4 linked regions of the Homo sapiens genome follow. The protein of the gene in region 4 purifies or fractionates together with the protein of the main gene of each other region. This does not show direct contact. Each region holds a gene or a part of one and is shown on either strand. Other genes may lie near its edges.

What was found.
Region 1: the proteins of ORC2 (region 4) and IMMP2L purify together in Homo sapiens (co-immunoprecipitation; one large-scale study listed by IntAct). This does not show direct contact.
Region 2: the proteins of ORC2 (region 4) and BRINP1 purify together in Homo sapiens (affinity purification with mass spectrometry; one large-scale study listed by BioGRID and IntAct). This does not show direct contact.
Region 3: the proteins of ORC2 (region 4) and OBI1 purify together in Homo sapiens (affinity purification with western blotting; one study listed by BioGRID). This does not show direct contact.

Annotation. Positions count from the first base shown.
Region 1 is NC_000007.14:111,552,493-111,555,992, reverse strand, and holds part of IMMP2L (mitochondrial inner membrane protease subunit 2), read left to right. Parts: intron 1-3,500. UniProt on the Homo sapiens protein: Catalyzes the removal of transit peptides required for the targeting of proteins from the mitochondrial matrix, across the inner membrane, into the inter-membrane space. Known to process the nuclear encoded protein DIABLO.
Region 2 is NC_000009.12:119,366,636-119,370,592, reverse strand, and holds the start of BRINP1 (BMP/retinoic acid-inducible neural-specific protein 1 precursor), read left to right. Parts: upstream 1-1,157; 5' UTR 1,158-1,537; intron 1,538-3,957. UniProt on the Homo sapiens protein: Plays a role in neurogenesis and brain development. May suppress cell cycle progression in postmitotic neurons by inhibiting G1/S transition.
Region 3 is NC_000013.11:78,617,656-78,621,155, forward strand, and holds part of OBI1 (ORC ubiquitin ligase 1), read right to left. Parts: intron 1-3,500. UniProt on the Homo sapiens protein: E3 ubiquitin ligase essential for DNA replication origin activation during S phase.
Region 4 is NC_000002.12:200,925,661-200,929,160, forward strand, and holds part of ORC2 (origin recognition complex subunit 2), read right to left. Parts: intron 1,241-3,500; coding exon 1,108-1,240; intron 273-1,107; coding exon 176-272; intron 1-175. UniProt on the Homo sapiens protein: Component of the origin recognition complex (ORC) that binds origins of replication. DNA-binding is ATP-dependent. The specific DNA sequences that define origins of replication have not been identified yet.

The DNA.
Region 1 (3,500 bases), on a different chromosome or scaffold from region 4:
TTGGTACAAAATAGAAGTAATGGTAGTTCTATTTTTAATTTCTTTAGGAACCTCCCTACTTTTTCCATAATGGTTGTACCAATAGTATACAAGGGTTCTCTTTTCTCCCACCCTCGCCAACACTTATCTCTTGTTTTATTTGGTAGTAGCCATCTTGATGGGTGTGAATATATGGAAACAACCTAACTGTCCAACAAAAGACAACAGAAAATCAAACTGCAGTACATATATAGAATGGAATATTATTCAGCCTTAAAAAAGAAATAGATTCTGCTTTTTGCCATAAGATAGGTAAACCTAGGGGACATTATGCTAAGTGAAGTAAGCCAAATGCAGAAAGAAAAATATTGTATTATCTCACATGTGGAATCTTAAAAAAAAGTCAAATACATAGTGAAATCATATCACTGCTTCAGATTTTATTTTTTGAGAGAGAAACAACATGTCTGTATGCTGTGAGTTAGAAACACCATAGAAAGGGAGATGTTGAAAATACAGTTGCCTGATTCCTTGCTTGTCATATTTTTTTTTTTGTGAATGAAGATTAGGTTGTCGCTTTGTTTGCCTACTCCTTCCCGGCTTGCAAAATTCATATCTGACCCCAACTGTCAGATATGAATTTTAAATGTCCTTTCTACTCTATTCTTTCCTGCCCCACAGTTCACTGCTGTCTTGCTCTCACTACGTCTGGCCCTTTTGCATACATTATTCTCTAACCTAATCCAGTTGTGCGTAAAAACTCCATTTTCCTTTATTAAAAGTTGAAAAATTTCACAGGAGTGTCTGCTAGGAGAATGGAGGAAATAATGATAACAAACATAAAAATCATTCAGCATAGCCAACATGTATTAATATCTGCTATGGTAAAGGCCCTGGATACAAAGATATATATGGCAGGAAGGATGAGTAACATAGGGATCTGATCTTAATGCATTTATGCCTAGTGCTCCATTATTGGAGCGCTAAGCTAGTGGGAGTTATTTATATCCTACTTCTCAAGGTCATCGCCAAGGCCTGATTTTTCACAAAAAAAATTTGCAACCTCCAGCATAAATGGGTTAAGGACCCCTCAGGGCAGTGAGAAAAATGGATATATAAATAAAGCAGCACCAGTACTTTGGGAGGCTGAGGTGGGTGGATCACCAGAGGTCAGGAGTTCGAGACTAGCCTGGCCAATATGGCAAAACCCCGTCTCTACTAAAAATACAAAAATTAGTCAGGCATGCTGGCATGTACCTGTAATCCCAGAGGCTGAGGCAGGAGAATCACTTGAACCCAGGAGGTGGAGGTTGCAGTGAGCCGAGAATGTGGTACTGCACTCCAGCCTGGGTGACAGAGCAAGACTCCATCTCAAATAATAATAATAATAATAATAAAATAAAAATAAAGCAATGCTTTGAGGGACAATATGTGCTATGATAGAGTTCAAGGTAAGATAGATGCAAAAAATGGACTTCATTATTTTTGTGATCCTGAAGGTCTCACAAAAGGTGATACCTGAGCTATAGCTTGAGATATGGCATGGTGAGGTTCGGGGAGTAAGATTAGGGGAATAAAATATTCCTTAATGGCCCCACGATAGCAGCAGAAGGGGCTTGGGTTTCTCATCTTCCCTTTCTTCTTGTTCTGCGTGATTTTATTGCAAGATATTTTTGTGTTTGAGGGAGTTCTTAGGGGGTTAATATGTTTCAGTTTACATATAGACGTATCAGCATTTTCTCCCTTGTGATATAAACTTTCTGTGAATTTACCAACACTGGTTTATTATATATTAGACAGCTAACACAAACCAGTGCAATTATATCAAGTATCTGGGGGATGAGGTCCAGGCAGTGATATTTTCAAAGCATCTTAGGTGTCCTCATGGCAGTCAGGGTGGAGAACCACTGGGCTAAAACATGGCTTAGAAGAAAAGGCTGGGATTTGGAGCTAAAAAATTGTAGATTAGATTCTTGAATTCCTTTTAATAGTTACGTATCCTTAGTTAAGTTACTGAGACTTCTCTAAGGCCATCATTGAAAAATAGGATGGTAGTATACCCGTCCTGCCTACCTGTTTTGCAAAGTTATATGGCTCAAAAGAGGAGATTTGTGTGAAGGAACATTATATGCAGATGTGATTATAACAATAAAATGTTCTCTTGACCTTCTCCAGAAGTGGACAGGCTTAAGAGCTGGCTACCTTGTCCTGTAAGATAGGAACTACTTTATGGATTTTGATTTAATATTTTACCATCACGAGCATTTTGATGATATATTTTACTACATTTGTGTAATGCTACAAGGTTGAAGACCTAAAGCCAAAATGCAGAACCTTAAAGAAATAGCAGTTGAGCATTTCCTGTCTGATATATTCTAATTGTTTAAAATTACACAGATGCTTATTGTAATTAAGATTTAAGTGTGTAGTCTCAGTGTCAGTAATATTTTAGTATTAAAATTCTCTAAATGTGTTAAGTGTTTATTTTCATGATATGCACATTAAAAATAGCCATTTTCCAGAAAATAGTAACAACTCCACAGAGCACAATGGAGCACCACAAATGGACTTATTTTGGAGATTCCCATTATATTCGTTAAGAATGCAGGGACATATACTGTGTCTCTGTACTGTAGGAAGCTTGACATACTAGTATCAGTCATATAATCGTGTAGGAATGATCATCCTTACAGTATTATACCTTATTTTAGTTGAGAAGAAAGTGGTATTGTTTAATGACAAATTGAACCTAAAGCCTAAAGACTGGGTTCCAGATCTGTTTTCTCTACTCATTCCTATATGATAATTGGTAAATTAACCTCTCTGAGCCTCATATGTAAAATTGGGTTCTCTGTTGTTTTGTAACATGAAAACCTTAGTGGCTGAAAACAACAATGATTGTTTGTTATCTCATGGTTGCTGTGGGTCAGCAATTTGAGGGTCCTTGCTTGGTTCTCTGGAGGTTGCTGTCAGATATCAGCAGGAGTGGAAGTTTTATAGGAGCATCACTGGAGCTAAAAGATTCACTTCCAAGGTGGCTTACTCACTTGGCTGGCCAGTTGGTGTTGGCAGGTTGGTTCCTTTCCACAATGGGCTTGCCGTGGGACTATTCTCATGAGATGGCAGATGACTTTCCCGAGATTCAAGCTGCCAAAGTAGAAACTGCAGTGCCCTTTATGACTTACCTGTGGAAGTCATACACCATCATTTCAGATGTATTCAATTGGTTCTACAGACCAGCCCTGATTCAGTATGGGAGTGGATTACACAAGGACATGAGGCAAGGATCATTGTGGACTGTCTTGTGAGGGTAGGCTCTCTGAGAGGATAACAGTCTCTACCTGACATAGGATTGCTTTGAGTTTCATTGTAAGCATTTATGTGAGAGTCCTTTGTAAACCATTAAAGCAGCATATAAATGTGTTATAGAAGTGATGGTGGCTCACACCTGTAATCCCAGCACTTTGGGAGGCCGAGGCAGGTGGATCACTTGAGGTCAGGAGTTTGAGAACAGCCTGGCC
Region 2 (3,957 bases), on a different chromosome or scaffold from region 4:
TCATGAGCAGTCTAAGTGCCTTTGCATATATTAACTCATTACAATTCCACATCAACCCTATTAGATGGGTAGATATATTATTATTCTATTAAACAGACAAGGAATTGAGGCTTAAGGGGTAAGTGATTTCACCAAGACCAGACAGCTACAGGACTCCAACCTCTCTGGAGCCTGCACTTCTACTGAATCTGGCTCTTTTACATATTCCAACACCTTTTCCTATGACTTCCTGCCCCTCCATCTGGTAGCCTTAATGCTTTCTATTCTTGCCTAATCTTCAGGGGACTAGGGATCTGCATTGCTGATTTGGTTTAAATCAGAAGGGAAGCAAAGTAAACAAACATACCAAATGTGCGCTGTGTGGGAATTATCATACGAGGGCTTTATTTTCTGCTTCAGGAAGAGGCCCTATGTTAGCAGCCCCAGCCTGCATTCAGGCTGATTGCAGAGTATTTTGCTTTTTATTTTCATGTCTTAGTCCCTGTACCCTCGCCCCTTCCCCGCCTCTGGTGGTCTCCAGAGAACTTCGTGTCCCCTCAGCTTCTCCCTCCTACATCCTGCCTACGTAGAGAAGCTCTTGCTTCATTCTGGGAGGTTACGTGGGCTCTCGCCTACACACCGAGAGAAACAAACAGTGTCAAACACTCACAGAGAGACGCGCAGACACAAACGGACCCACACGGGCAACTCCCGAGACAAAACCCACACTCGATGGATCCACGCGGCCGTGGAAACACCTGCCGCCCCAGAAACACTCAGGTACTCGCGACACACACAGTACAGTCACGCTTAAGGGCACCAGGATTCCGGGTTTGCGCGTATGCGCGGTCCCTTTGGATGCTCGTGCGCATAGACACAACACCCTACACGCCCCAGACCCACGAAACTCCCTACGGCTCAGCCCCAGCCCACCCGGGCCGCCCTTCCCTCGAGGCGGCCTCCCGTCTCTCCTCCTCTCGCTTCTCCTCCTCCTCCGCCTAAAGATGTACAAAACACTCCTCGGAAGCAACCCCGGCGTTCAGCTCCTCCCTCCCCGCCCCCCGGCCGCCGCTCCCCCATTCATTTTCGGCCGTCGCCGGCTAAGTCCCTCCCCCGGCGTAGCCCGGCCTCCGCCGCTCCCCGCCCGGAGACCGCGGCGCACTTGGACTTCCCTCTCCATTCGCCAGCCGCCTCGCTCCCGGACCCCACGGCTGCAAACTGATCTGGCGCGCGGGGAGGAGGAGAGCGCAGGCGAGCGAACCCGCGAGAGAGGGAGAGAGCGAGCGAGCAACAGCGAGAGCGAGAGCGAGAGAGCCGGGAGGCAGAGGGAGTAGTGACCGCCTTCCGGAGCCGGGATTCATGCCTGTCCTCGGGACCAGCGAAGGGGACTTTACGGCTGAGTATGAGCCAGGCTGCTAGGAGCCAGGTACCCCCACGCCTGCAGTCCCCGCGCCGTGCCCGGAATGCGAGCTGCACGCAGGGCTCTCCCAAGTTCCCACCGAGCCGAATAAAAAGCGTCCTCCCGCAGCTCTCCGCCAAAGACGGACATTGACTCCAGGTAAGGCGGCGCCGGGTGCAGCGCCCCGCAGCCCCGCTGCCCTTGGACCCGGCCCCGGGCCGCATTCGGGGCGTCCCCGCGCTCCTCTGCCCCTCCCCCTACCGGCACCCTTGTCCGCTCTTCACCTGGCCGCCCCGCCGCCTCCAAGTCTTCTCCAGTTCTAGGGAGGGGGTTCCTGTGCCTGGGGCTCAAAGGGCTAATTGCGGGTTTGAGTGAGTGGCGTGTGTGTCCCCGCGCGCTCCCGACGTGTGCACCATGGTGGGAACTTGATGTGGTGCTAGTGTGTTTGCGTGTGCGGCGTCGTTTGCGTTTGATGCGTGTGTTCGTGGTGTGTGTGTGTGTCCGTGTGTGTAAGGGAGGGGTGAAGAGAGAGAGGTCCTATAACCTACTTACGGCGCGATGTGTGTGTGCATGTTTGTACGTATGTGTTTGTATGTGTGCCCTCGTGTGTCTTTTTAATTAGGTCTCTCCAGCTTACACGGAATGGGACCCTTACTATAGGATCACGTAGTCACCGGGAAACCCGCTGTGGACTTCCTCTTGGGGCTCTGGGCTTGGGGTTTGGGGAGGATTATGGGGCTGTAGATGGCACCTTATTTAGCCCAATGTTGGTACGCTTGAAGGAAAATTCCTCCAAACGGTGGAATCCTGCTACACTGGGACCCACAGCTTAATATGAAAGAGACATGGCCAACCCCCGAGGCAAATGAGACGCTGTCACTTTAAATTCTACACTGGGCAGACTCCAAGATTCTGATGGGAATTTGGAGACACTGGATAGTGGGTGACAGAGAAAGGGGGAAGTCAGCGGTGGGCTCCTTATCTGGGGCTTGGAAAGTCTGGGATAGGGATTTACCCTGCATCCCCGTTTGCAATCAACAGAGCCCCTCCGGCTTCTGTTGGTTTTGGGGAGGATCTGGCAAGTTTGCATGGATCCCCCTCAGGGGAAAGGAGAAAGCGTCCTCGGGGACTTGCTCATCCATCACAGTTGCAAAGGGTCTCAGAGGAAATTTCATCTGGGGCGGCTGTGGATGATATGGAAGGAGATGGATGGGGCACTTTCCTAAGACAGATTCGTCTTTCTTTCCCCATTTCAGGCGGGGAAGCCCCCAGAGAGTCTCTCCCTAAATATGCCTCTCCATGGCTCCCCTGGAGTTAGGGGGATATTGAGAGAAGGCAGAGAGGTGGAGAGGGAGAGAGAGAGAGCAAGAGCGAGAGAGAGGGAGACAGAGAGAGAGAGTGTTTCAGTACTGAGGGAGATCTACAATTTGAAAAGGGGCTGTGAGTGTGGAACCCATGACAGAATGTGGCAGTAATTGACTTAAACTGCTGTCGGTTTGCACCTCGCGTCTCTCACTTGGCTCCAAAATACTGCCAAGGGCAGGGGGGCGGTGGAGGAATCTCAGCCAGGAAGGTAGTTTGGGTCAAGGCCCTCTTTCTTCTTTCCTCCATCTCCTGGGAGGCTCTTTAGGTAGGTCCCTTGGCCACCCTGGCTTGGTACTGTTGGGCTTGGGCTCTGGGGCCAGCCATTGATTTGATTCCCAGCTGCCTCTTAAAGGCTTGCCCTACTCAGCAAAAATGCTGAGTTTTACTGCTGTTAGCATGGCTTCCAGACTCGGCAGCTGTTACTTTCTCAAGGTAAGCGGCAGCCGTTCTGCTCTCAGGCAGGGAGGCTAGGAGAAGACAAGGGCTGTGACGCTGGGACACAGCCTCTTGTCTAGCTCAGCACGGAGGGGCCGCTGAAAAGCCCTCTTAGGGGAAAAAAGTAGAAATATATTTGGCCTAAAAAATGTACACATATATTCTAGGAAGATATATATATATATATATATATCAATCACACACACACACACACACACACATGTGTTCATATTCTGGGGAGAGATAAAAGCAAACATGTATTTGTAGGAACCTGCCCTAGTGGGTGGGTTCTACCTGCAGGCACTTGCAGACATACCATTCTCTGTCCAGAGGCTGATACCTCAGGCTGAAGCCTTCACATAGCCACAGAGAATCTCCTTCAGGAAACTCATGTCAGGGCAGAGCTCCCTGGATTATCTTGGGTAGGGGGTACTAGGGCCAAGGAGGAGACCCATTTTTGGGAACTGCCTCATTTTCTCTCTTTCCTAATTCACAGACGATCGAAACTGGAAGGAATATTAAAGAGCAGAAAGGCAGGACTCTGTGGCCTAAAGAGGGAATGAGAATTCCCCAACATTCAGTAGTGGGTTAGTGGCATGCCCAGGACTAGAATCTAGGCTTATCAATCAGCTAGATCAATACCCTTTCCACTCCTCCCAGCAATATACACTCTAGGACTGTATATTGCTCCCACCCCTATCTTGCCAACCTGCCACCATGACCCCTACCAAGACAATCGCTTGTCTTCCCTCATCAAACTTCACATTTTCAGAGATGCA
Region 3 (3,500 bases), on a different chromosome or scaffold from region 4:
GGCCCTTTCAATTATAGCCACCCTTGATCTGAAGCTTTTCTGTGGCTTTTCAGAGCACTGGCCTTTAATTTATGTCAGCACTACTTATTTTTGGCATTTTACAGCTGTGTGGGACATCTATCTCATTTCTTTCAACTTTGAAATATGAAGTCAGTGCTTGTGATTCCAATATACTAGGCAAAAAAAAAAATTTTTTTGTACACTTTCTGAAAGAGAACATTTTGGAGAGTGACTGAAAAAGAATTCCCTTATTCACAAAAAGTCTACTCCTTTTACACCGGGATTATCTTGCTGTTATTTCCACCAAGAATGAGTACTGTGTTAAGCTCAGGAAACAATTTTTGAGTACCTAGTATAGGTTAGGTGGTATATTTGGGGCTGGGAACACAAAAGATAAAAAAGACTGTCTAGCTCCAAGGGACATAAAATATCTACCTTAAATTCAATCTTATCACCAAAAATAAATTCTATCTTTCAGGAAACTTATGAGCCAATAAATAACATAATCCCGTGAAAAATACCTTATCTCCTCCAAAATTCTTTTCAAAGCCTATTCTTAATCATCTTTTTGATGATTTATATATTGGCCCATTTCTAAGAATTAAGGGATTGTCTGTTTGGAGGAAGCTATGAGAAGGTGACTTTCAAAAATTATTTTTATCTTTGGGTTTATCTTTTTCTTCCTTTTTTCCCCTAATTTGAAAAATAATTACAATTAAGAACATGTATTTAGTATTGAAAAAAAAAACTACAAAAAAAGCAGAAGCCAATAGCAATTGCCCCTCTTAGAATCAACCACAACATGTTTTCAACTCCCACTTAATGCCCATCACCTCCTAAACCACTAGCCCAATTCATTCCCCATCTCAACCCCTACATAATCCCTGCACTCTTATCACTGAAGGAAAAAGCAGAGGCAAAGGTAAATATAGAATCATAAAATCTCAAGATTAGAAAGGGCTTTAAAAGACATGATTGCTGAATATTGATTTACTCACTGCAATTAACTGAACCCCCAGAGAGAGCACGCTCCCTTCAACTTCTAAAAAAACACAGCAAAAACCACAGGTATAACAAAAACAAAAGCAACTATAATAACAAGCCTCCCCATTTTAAAGACAAAGTTTACTACTGTATTTGGTTAAATGAATGATGGGAATTTTTCTTCTTTGTTAAAAATGTTTTGGCTTATAAATGTAGTACTTCACAGAGTTGTAGTTCTGCAAGAGAACTTTTAAAAAGTGGGCAAAGACCTTTCAGTACATTAAGTACAAATGTTTGTTAGTTCTTGATTGTAACTACTCTGGCATAATCAAATAACCCACATTTTTAAATGGAAAAACTGTAGTATGTTTATTTAATGCCAATAAGCAAAAGTGACAGCCTTACATTTGCTTATCAAGATAAATTTCTTCAAGTAAAATTTTTTATAATAAAGGTATCTCCTCAGATAAAAAAATCAAATGACTTAAAATCAAATAATGCTACTACATAGTAAGTCAGTTGCTACCAAAGGATATCTTTGGGAACTTAGAGGCCTACACACAGAAAGACTACTCAAAAATAAAGAATGCTTCCCAAAATATTACCAGCTTCTTGTTCCAGGGTTTTAGCTTGGAATTTCAAATATAGTATCATCTTAAGATACTGTATTTGCCTCTCTCTCTCTATATATTTTTTTTTTTTAGAAATTATGTTTTTAAAAGAAGTAACATATGGTTTGGAGTTGAAGTCAATGAGAGCCCTAAACATAATTTTTGTGTTATTTCAGAGAGAAGTAACAAAGGCCAGTAGCAGATCACATATGAGAGGCACAAGCAAGCAGAAGTCACTGATGGAGTTAGGCTGTTTTCTAAAAGGCCACTGCCCCCAATTTCCTTAAGTTTCCTTTCAATACTCTATAAATCTATAATACTTTCAGTGATCAGGCCCTTCTCCCATGCTAATAAGGGACCTGTGCTGGTTGGCAGACTGACAGAAATGTATACTAAAAGCCATGCAACTGATCAATTAATCAATTCATGTAATTTATTTGCTTTCTTTCTCCCACGTTAGAATAGAAGCTCAAGGAGAGCAGGTAGTTTGTCTTATATTCACTGCCAGATTCCTAGAACAATTCCTGGTATACGGCACTTGCCTGTTGTGTATTTCTTGAATAAAAGTCATTCTCTTACTTTAAGATACACTAGTGCCTTACATTGAGACAGGGTTGACACCACAGGATAAGCTAAAGGTCCTTGGCCTTCTTTTTACATGTTAAGTATTATGACAGTCACTGTATTACTAAAGTAAACATGTTTTGTTTACTACATTTGACTGTTTACTTTATTTCACTGACACCCAGGAAAGCAACAGAGACTGACATATGTACAGTACAGCCTTTTTTGCTACAGGCTTGACATTCTATACTGCTCCACCCCAAAAAACTTCACCTTAGTAAGACTGCAAATAGATGAGACTTTTGACATGTGTCAGGAAATTTTCAGCTTATCCAAGATAACTATATTAAATTTGGCAAAGGGCAATTTACCTTATTATAGAGAAATAACAATTAGGGATAAGTATCTGATGCTATACTTCCATAGAAGAAGGACATGAGCTTATTTATCTTTGGGTTTTAATACTTTTGTATTCACACTAATTCTAGATATTTGGAGTATACAACACTAAATGAAGCTATGCCAAGGCAAGCCGGAGGGATTTCTAATATCATTTACCATACTTCCTCCTTTTCTTGAGTAAATTTCAAAATGGAGTATTTTTATAAACATTCCATTAGAGACCAAAAGGCTTTGATTTTCAAAGTAGCAGTGATGGCCAAAGGCTTCATTGTGCCAGAAAAAACACTGCAGAGCAGTTTGGGAGCTACAATTGATATCGGAACTGTATTCTGCCAGAATCTAACAGAAGCTTAAAGGATTTTTCAGCTTGCAATATTAACTGATACATACATTCTGGATGAGAGAGAAAAGGATGCCAGTTCCCCTTGTCCAAATAGCTCTAAGAGATACAAGATCATTTCTGTCCCTAGTAAAAGAGAAATGGAAGTCCTATTGGTATGACCTTTGAGGTGGTATAACTAAACTAAAGAGCATCTCTAACAACAAAAAGTTCCTAAGACCATATTTTCTCATAGTCTATCACACAGAAAAACAGGACGTGTTTGAAGAAAACAAATGTGGTAAAAGAATACCACACCTGAGTACCAAAAAACTAATAAGCTCTAGTGCTACGCTACTATCCTTGAGCAATTCACTTTGCCTTTCTGGTTCTCAATGGCAATTCCAACAAAATGGGTAAATGCAGCAAGCCCAGTGGGTGGCCAAGACTGCCAAAATTCAGAAATGCCTTCTTGAGGAGGAACAAGGGGGACATTGGGGAAGTCAGTCCACTTGCCTCATCAAACTTTGACTTTATATGTTTCCCTCACTTGGTAGCTGAGGTAATGAAACAAAGCGAAAGCTATCTTTGGACCTGGACCAGCTTTTGTGGTGTGGCCT
Region 4 (3,500 bases):
CCCAGAAGGTCAAGGCTGCAGTGAGCCATGATCGCACCACTGCACTCCAGGCTGGGCAACAGAGAGACTGTCTCAAAAATAATAATAATAATATTGTATGTATATAAATACATGAATAAGTAGAAGTATATGCTTAACTTTACTCTAAAACTACCGAGCATCTACTTCATGTTACCTTCTTTAAATTTGTTTACTATCCAGTCTAGCTGATCCAGTATACTGCGGAAAGTACCCATATGATCGAGGACTTCTTCTGTTATAGAATTCAGGACCTATATCATGAATGTGGAAGAGGTACCACATTAATTACAATTTATTGTCATATACAACTAGAAAATCAAACCTTTTTTTATAAATTAAAAATGAATTTGGATTTCCCAAAAGTTTAAAAAATAACTTTTAAAAATTCTACTGGTACTTGAGTATATCTAATTCATTGTTTTTTGCCTAAGTTGTGGCTAAAAGAAAACAGAAAAGAATAGCAAAGATGTACAGGTAATAGGTAATATAAGAGGGCAGCAAAAACAAATGAAAAAGCTCCCAAGAACATGAGAAACATTAGAAAACTACAGTTCTATCAAAGGAAACAGGACACAAACACTACAGACACTTTAAAAAAGGAATACTATATGGCTCAATATCCAGCACCCAAAAGATTTCATGTTCAAATGATGAAGAGATATTAAGCATTTGAAATAAAAATGATCTATGATAAATGTATTGTTAAACTACAGTCTTCACATCACATCCTGTTGCATTTTAAAGCATTTTCACAGCATGTAGTTTTTGCCTAATAAAGCATTTTCATAGTTTATAACAAAACTGAAGACCCCATAATTCCCTCCTTCAGAAGTACCACTGATACTCAGTATAGTAAACAAAGCTAACATTTTCCTAAGTTTTAATACATGTCAGTTACAATGTAGGACATTCGAAGATGGTTTCAAAGCTAGATTCTTGAGTCCAAACACATGGTATTAAGCACTATACAATCCTACTACCGTGAAGGCTAAAACAAAAATTCTTTAATACTCCATCCTCATTTATGTGGGGGCTTGAATTGGCAGAGGATATAATGTTTTTCCCTTTAACATTTTTGAAACTTACTGATTTCACACTGATTCCAGGAAAGAAGCCATTGATGACAACGTGAATGGAATCTTGCAGCATAGTGGTTCGAAACCTTTCTAGTAAATCTCTCTTAGAACCCAAACCATAAAGCACAATGTTGAACCCAAGGCTGTTAGGAAAGACAGTATTCATGAAATTAAACTTCAATACCTCTTATTGCCAATTTTATTATCAACCAGTTTCCTTAAATTCAGTTTATAAAAAATACAGGAAAGGGGTAGGCGCACTGGCTCAAGCCTGTAATCCCCGAATTTTGGGAAGGCAAACGCAAAAAAGTTTTTCATGTATGTATATATATGTATCTTTTTTTTTTTGAGACAGAGTCACTCTGTCACCCAGACTGGAGTCCAGTGGCACTCTTGGCTCACTGCAACCTCAGCCTCCCAGGTTCAAGCAACTCTTCAGCGTCAGTCTCCCAAGAAGCTGGGGCTACAGCTGTGCACCACCATACCTGGCTAATTTTTATATTTTTACTAGAGATGAGCTTTTGCCATGTTGCCCAGGCTGGTCTTGAACAACTGGGCTCAAGTAATCCACCCACCTTGGCCCCCAAAATTGCTGGGACTACAGGTGTGAGCCACCATGTCTAGCCAAAAATATTTTTATTTAAAAAAAAAATTAGGTCAGGTGCGGTGGCTCACGCCTGTAATCCCAGCACTTTGGGAGGCCGAGGTGGGCGGATCACGAGGTCAGGAGATCGAGACCACAGTGAAACCCCATCTCTACTAAAAATACAAAAAAAAAAAAAATTAGCTGGGTGCAGTGGCGGGTGCCTGTAGTCCCAGCTACTTGGGAGGCTGAGGCAGGAGAATGGCGTGAACACGGAAGGCGGAGCTTGCAGTGAGCCGAGATCCCGCCACTGCACTCCAACCAGGGCAACAGAGCAAGACAGTGTCTGTAAAAAAAAATTAACTAATTAATAATAATTTTTTTTTTCGCTCTGTCGCCCAGGCTGGAGTGTAGTGGCACCATCATAGCTCACTGCAACCTCCGCCTCCCGGGTTCAAGCGATTCTCCTGCCTCAGCCTCCTGAGCAGCTGGATTACAGGCGCCCGCCACCATGCCCAGCTAATTTTTATATTTTTAGTAGAGACGGGGTTTCACCATGTTGGTCTTGAACTCTTGACCTCAGGTGATGTGCCTGCCTTAGCCTCTCAAAGTGCTGGGATTACAGGCATGAGCCACCGTGCAAGGCCAGGAATCAATGTTTAGTGATTCAGCCATCCCAGTTCTTCCTCTTCCTTCCTAAAAAAAAAAAGTATTCTTTTTAAAAATTATTATTGGCCGGGCATGATGGCTCACGCCTGTAATCCCAGCACTTTGGGAGGTCGAGGCAGGTGGATCACATGAGGCCAGGAATTCGAGACCAGCCTGGCCAACATGGTGAAATCCTGTCTCTACTAAAAATACAAAAATTGGCTGGGCATGGTGGCAGGTGCCTGTAATCCCAGCTACTTGGGAGGCTGAGGCAGGAGAATTGCTTGAACCTGGGAGGTGGAGGTTGCAGAGAGCTGAGATCACATCACTACATTCCAGCCTGGGCAACAGAGTAAGATTCCATCTTAAATAAATAAATAAATATTTATTCCAAACCCATACAAGGTAAAGGCACAATTTTATTATCTGTATACCAAGCTTCTAGTTCTAATTTGTTCAGTAGCTTCACTGTAGCTTCTATTACTTTTCAGATGACAGATGACTGGAGGCAAGGGAGACCATTGCCAATAAAAGCCCTAAAAAGGCCAGGCGCAGTGGCTCACGCCTGTAATCCCAGCACTTTGGGAGGCCGAGGCGGGCGGATCACGAGGTCAGGAGATCGAGACCATCTTGGCTAACACGGTGAAATCCTGTCTCTACTAAAAATACAAAAAAATTAGCTGGGCGTGGTGGCAGGCACCTGTAGTCCCAGCTACTCAGGAGGCTGAGGCAGGAGAATGGCGTGAACACGGGAGGCAGAGCTTGCAGTGAGCCGAGATTGCACCACTGCACTTCAGCCTGGGCAACAGAGCAAGACTCTGTCTCAAAAAAAAAAACAACAAAAAAAAAGTCCTAAAAACTTTTATAGGCTGAAGCAGAGTTGAAACTGATACAAATTGAAAAGAGGTCAAGTAACAAAGGCCTTGTTAAGTCATACTAAACCATTAATTCACTCATTCCAAGGAGAATGAGCATTTATTTATTTATTTTGAGATGGAGTCCTGCTCTGTCACCCAGGCTGGAGTGCAGTGGTGCGATTTTGGCTCACTGCCTCCCGCGTTCAAGCAATTCTCCTGCCTCACCCTCCCAAGTAGCTGGGATTACAGGCATGCACCACTAAGCCCGGCTAACTTTGTATTTTTAGTAGAGACAGGATTTCACTATGTTGGTCA